Linked DNA regions of Homo sapiens. The protein of the gene in region 2 purifies or fractionates together with the protein of the main gene of each other region. This does not show direct contact. Each region holds a gene or a part of one and is shown on either strand. Other genes may lie near its edges.

Region 1 (3,436 bases), on a different chromosome or scaffold from region 2:
CCAGGCTATTTGTACCGATTGCCTACTCCTTGATCTGTGTCTTTGGCCTCCTGGGGAATATTCTGGTGGTGATCACCTTTGCTTTTTATAAGAAGGCCAGGTCTATGACAGACGTCTATCTCTTGAACATGGCCATTGCAGACATCCTCTTTGTTCTTACTCTCCCATTCTGGGCAGTGAGTCATGCCACCGGTGCGTGGGTTTTCAGCAATGCCACGTGCAAGTTGCTAAAAGGCATCTATGCCATCAACTTTAACTGCGGGATGCTGCTCCTGACTTGCATTAGCATGGACCGGTACATCGCCATTGTACAGGCGACTAAGTCATTCCGGCTCCGATCCAGAACACTACCGCGCAGCAAAATCATCTGCCTTGTTGTGTGGGGGCTGTCAGTCATCATCTCCAGCTCAACTTTTGTCTTCAACCAAAAATACAACACCCAAGGCAGCGATGTCTGTGAACCCAAGTACCAGACTGTCTCGGAGCCCATCAGGTGGAAGCTGCTGATGTTGGGGCTTGAGCTACTCTTTGGTTTCTTTATCCCTTTGATGTTCATGATATTTTGTTACACGTTCATTGTCAAAACCTTGGTGCAAGCTCAGAATTCTAAAAGGCACAAAGCCATCCGTGTAATCATAGCTGTGGTGCTTGTGTTTCTGGCTTGTCAGATTCCTCATAACATGGTCCTGCTTGTGACGGCTGCAAATTTGGGTAAAATGAACCGATCCTGCCAGAGCGAAAAGCTAATTGGCTATACGAAAACTGTCACAGAAGTCCTGGCTTTCCTGCACTGCTGCCTGAACCCTGTGCTCTACGCTTTTATTGGGCAGAAGTTCAGAAACTACTTTCTGAAGATCTTGAAGGACCTGTGGTGTGTGAGAAGGAAGTACAAGTCCTCAGGCTTCTCCTGTGCCGGGAGGTACTCAGAAAACATTTCTCGGCAGACCAGTGAGACCGCAGATAACGACAATGCGTCGTCCTTCACTATGTGATAGAAAGCTGAGTCTCCCTAAGGCATGTGTGAAACATACTCATAGATGTTATGCAAAAAAAAGTCTATGGCCAGGTATGCATGGAAAATGTGGGAATTAAGCAAAATCAAGCAAGCCTCTCTCCTGCGGGACTTAACGTGCTCATGGGCTGTGTGATCTCTTCAGGGTGGGGTGGTCTCTGATAGGTAGCATTTTCCAGCACTTTGCAAGGAATGTTTTGTAGCTCTAGGGTATATATCCGCCTGGCATTTCACAAAACAGCCTTTGGGAAATGCTGAATTAAAGTGAATTGTTGACAAATGTAAACATTTTCAGAAATATTCATGAAGCGGTCACAGATCACAGTGTCTTTTGGTTACAGCACAAAATGATGGCAGTGGTTTGAAAAACTAAAACAGAAAAAAAAATGGAAGCCAACACATCACTCATTTTAGGCAAATGTTTAAACATTTTTATCTATCAGAATGTTTATTGTTGCTGGTTATAAGCAGCAGGATTGGCCGGCTAGTGTTTCCTCTCATTTCCCTTTGATACAGTCAACAAGCCTGACCCTGTAAAATGGAGGTGGAAAGACAAGCTCAAGTGTTCACAACCTGGAAGTGCTTCGGGAAGAAGGGGACAATGGCAGAACAGGTGTTGGTGACAATTGTCACCAATTGGATAAAGCAGCTCAGGTTGTAGTGGGCCATTAGGAAACTGTCGGTTTGCTTTGATTTCCCTGGGAGCTGTTCTCTGTCGTGAGTGTCTCTTGTCTAAACGTCCATTAAGCTGAGAGTGCTATGAAGACAGGATCTAGAATAATCTTGCTCACAGCTGTGCTCTGAGTGCCTAGCGGAGTTCCAGCAAACAAAATGGACTCAAGAGAGATTTGATTAATGAATCGTAATGAAGTTGGGGTTTATTGTACAGTTTAAAATGTTAGATGTTTTTAATTTTTTAAATAAATGGAATACTTTTTTTTTTTTTTTAAAGAAAGCAACTTTACTGAGACAATGTAGAAAGAAGTTTTGTTCCGTTTCTTTAATGTGGTTGAAGAGCAATGTGTGGCTGAAGACTTTTGTTATGAGGAGCTGCAGATTAGCTAGGGGACAGCTGGAATTATGCTGGCTTCTGATAATTATTTTAAAGGGGTCTGAAATTTGTGATGGAATCAGATTTTAACAGCTCTCTTCAATGACATAGAAAGTTCATGGAACTCATGTTTTTAAAGGGCTATGTAAATATATGAACATTAGAAAAATAGCAACTTGTGTTACAAAAATACAAACACATGTTAGGAAGGTACTGTCATGGGCTAGGCATGGTGGCTCACACCTGTAATCCCAGCATTTTGGGAAGCTAAGATGGGTGGATCACTTGAGGTCAGGAGTTTGAGACCAGCCTGGCCAACATGGCGAAACCCCTCTCTACTAAAAATACAAAAATTTGCCAGGCGTGGTGGCGGGTGCCTGTAATCCCAGCTACTTGGGAGGCTGAGGCAAGAGAATCGCTTGAACCCAGGAGGCAGAGGTTGCAGTGAGCCGAGATCGTGCCATTGCACTCCAGCCTGGGTGACAAAGCGAGACTCCATCTCAAAAAAAAAAAAAAAAAAAAAGGAAAGAACTGTCATGTAAACATACCAACATGTTTAAACCTGACAATGGTGTTATTTGAAACTTTATATTGTTCTTGTAAGCTTTAACTATATCTCTCTTTAAAATGCAAAATAATGTCTTAAGATTCAAAGTCTGTATTTTTAAAGCATGGCTTTGGCTTTGCAAAATAAAAAATGTGTTTTGTACATGAAGTAGGAATCGTATTTCAGCTTCAAGGTTCAGATTGAGGGGCCCACTGTTTGGAGAGGATGGTATTCAGGCTTTCTCATGTCCTTCAAATCTGTTAGCGTTTGACTCTAGAAATCAAAGCAAAGGAGTGGTTACCCAGACACTTCTTTTGGTGTGATCAATGCGCTGATGTGATCTATGAAGATGATTCATGCTTGAAAACTAGCACAGAAACATCTTGCTTATTTGCCAAAGCTGGGAGATGAGCTTCTCTGCATAATTTAAATGTTCAGATAAATGAAGCTGACTTATTTAAGCAATAACCTTTTAAACATTTTAGCTAAGATGTATAAAAATGTTTCCAAAATATACCACATACTTTATTTCTTCTTAAATGTAGTACATTAGGTTACATCATTTTTCTTGCTGTCTTGGGCATCAAAACAGGTGCCATGGTAACCTGACACTCTCAGGAGACATTAAGATAGAAGGGGCTGTTCTTCAGTGGTTCCCATTGATTCTCCCCATATCTTTTTGCTCTCAGGCTCTGGCCGTCTCTTCCTGAGCCTTAACTGTGTCTGCCGTTAGTCCTCCTCTCCACTCATTGCAAACATTATTCTATATGTTTGGTGGGGACATCAGCTATCTGCGCTTGTCAGAATTGTCTATTAATAGGGGCAA
Region 2 (2,318 bases):
CAGTGAATTTTCTATAGATTTGTAGGAAGTCTAGGACAAGATGCATATTGTTGGCATGCTGTATACTTCAGAATGCTTAGTTTATTAATCAACAAAGGAGTCATATCTTTTTGTCACTAATGTCCTCAAAACAATCCCAACCAATCTTACCGCTAAAATTGTATTTTATTATTTTATTTTTATTTTTTACTTTGTAAGCAATCAAAGACAATATGTATCTTATATAGTATAAGGTTTTCTATCTCTGAACTAAAGACAAACTACATGTTATATCCAGTTCAGATATGCAGCCAGTAACTGAAGTAGGAAAATCAATATCGCTTTTCATTTTCCAGTGGAAACTGGAACCAATACAAACTTTTTCTTGCCCAGAACATCATGAGTAATCATTGTTAAACTGCTAGGAAATGCTGTGTGACATTGTTAGCTAGAGTCAGTATGTATGTAATCATGTTTTAAGGAATTAACTCACAGTATATCTAGCTACAAATAAAGCTAGTATACTGTCCTATAAATTTTTCTAAAAACTAATCTGTAGTTCTAAAAACTTAAATGTCACTCTTATTTTCCCTTACTTTTTTTTAAAGGTACCTGAAATGCTGCACAATGATGCTAGTGACCATGGATGTAGCCGCTGGGGGTATTTCTTTTTACAGAATGCTGGGATGCTTTTGGGTTTTGGAATTATGTTACTTATTTCCATATTTGAACATAAAATCGTGTTTCGTATAAATTTCTAGTTAAGGTTTAAATGCTAGAGTAGCTTAAAAAGTTGTCATAGTTTCAGTAGGTCATAGGGAGATGAGTTTGTATGCTGTACTATGCAGCGTTTAAAGTTAGTGGGTTTTGTGATTTTTGTATTGAATATTGCTGTCTGTTACAAAGTCAGTTAAAGGTACGTTTTAATATTTAAGTTATTCTATCTTGGAGATAAAATCTGTATGTGCAATTCACCGGTATTACCAGTTTATTATGTAAACAAGAGATTTGGCATGACATGTTCTGTATGTTTCAGGGAAAAATGTCTTTAATGCTTTTTCAAGAACTAACACAGTTATTCCTATACTGGATTTTAGGTCTCTGAAGAACTGCTGGTGTTTAGGAATAAGAATGTGCATGAAGCCTAAAATACCAAGAAAGCTTATACTGAATTTAAGCAAAGAAATAAAGGAGAAAAGAGAAGAATCTGAGAATTGGGGAGGCATAGATTCTTATAAAAATCACAAAATTTGTTGTAAATTAGAGGGGAGAAATTTAGAATTAAGTATAAAAAGGCAGAATTAGTATAGAGTACATTCATTAAACATTTTTGTCAGGATTATTTCCCGTAAAAACGTAGTGAGCACTTTTCATATACTAATTTAGTTGTACATTTAACTTTGTATAATACAGAAATCTAAATATATTTAATGAATTCAAGCAATATATCACTTGACCAAGAAATTGGAATTTCAAAATGTTCGTGCGGGTATATACCAGATGAGTACAGTGAGTAGTTTTATGTATCACCAGACTGGGTTATTGCCAAGTTATATATCACCAAAAGCTGTATGACTGGATGTTCTGGTTACCTGGTTTACAAAATTATCAGAGTAGTAAAACTTTGATATATATGAGGATATTAAAACTACACTAAGTATCATTTGATTCGATTCAGAAAGTACTTTGATATCTCTCAGTGCTTCAGTGCTATCATTGTGAGCAATTGTCTTTTATATACGGTACTGTAGCCATACTAGGCCTGTCTGTGGCATTCTCTAGATGTTTCTTTTTTACACAATAAATTCCTTATATCAGCTTGACGTCAGATGTCTGGTTTTCTTTTTAAAAAAAAATTTTTTTTACCATTGGAACCATTTTTAACTGTAGAGTTCAGTAGTTTTAAGTATATTCATGTTGTGCAATGAATCTCCAGAACTTCTTCATCCTGCAACACTGAAACTCTATACCCACTCAACGCCAACTCCCCATTTTCCCTTAGCCCCTGGTAACCACCATTCTACTTTCTGTTCCTAAAAAATTGAGCTATCTGAATTTTTAAATTATCATCTGGATTGTAGTATACTAATCAATTCATTTATAATATTGTATTGGGTGGCCTTATTCAATTTTTAAATTGTTTATCACAAAGGACACTTCAAAAAATATTGGTCCACAGTTTGTTTTCGGGTGTCTCTCTTTTTTTTTTTTTTTTTAACAACTGGACCTAAAGCTGTAGAAGAAGCATTATTAATATTCTACACTCTCAAGAGAGTCAGTGTTTTAATTCAAGATTTTTACGATGGAGAGCTTGTGATGAGACTCAATGCTTGAGAGAG

Evidence for each region.
Region 1: the proteins of SLC39A6 (region 2) and CCR6 purify together in Homo sapiens (co-immunoprecipitation; one large-scale study listed by IntAct). This does not show direct contact.

What each region holds. Positions count from the first base shown.
Region 1 is NC_000006.12:167,136,364-167,139,799, forward strand, and holds the end of CCR6 (C-C chemokine receptor type 6), read left to right. Parts: coding exon 1-992; 3' UTR 993-2,778; downstream 2,779-3,436. UniProt on the Homo sapiens protein: Receptor for the C-C type chemokine CCL20. Binds to CCL20 and subsequently transduces a signal by increasing the intracellular calcium ion levels.
Region 2 is NC_000018.10:36,108,015-36,110,332, reverse strand, and holds the end of SLC39A6 (zinc transporter ZIP6 isoform 1 precursor), read left to right. Parts: intron 1-587; coding exon 588-740; 3' UTR 741-1,802; downstream 1,803-2,318. UniProt on the Homo sapiens protein: Zinc-influx transporter which plays a role in zinc homeostasis and in the induction of epithelial-to-mesenchymal transition (EMT).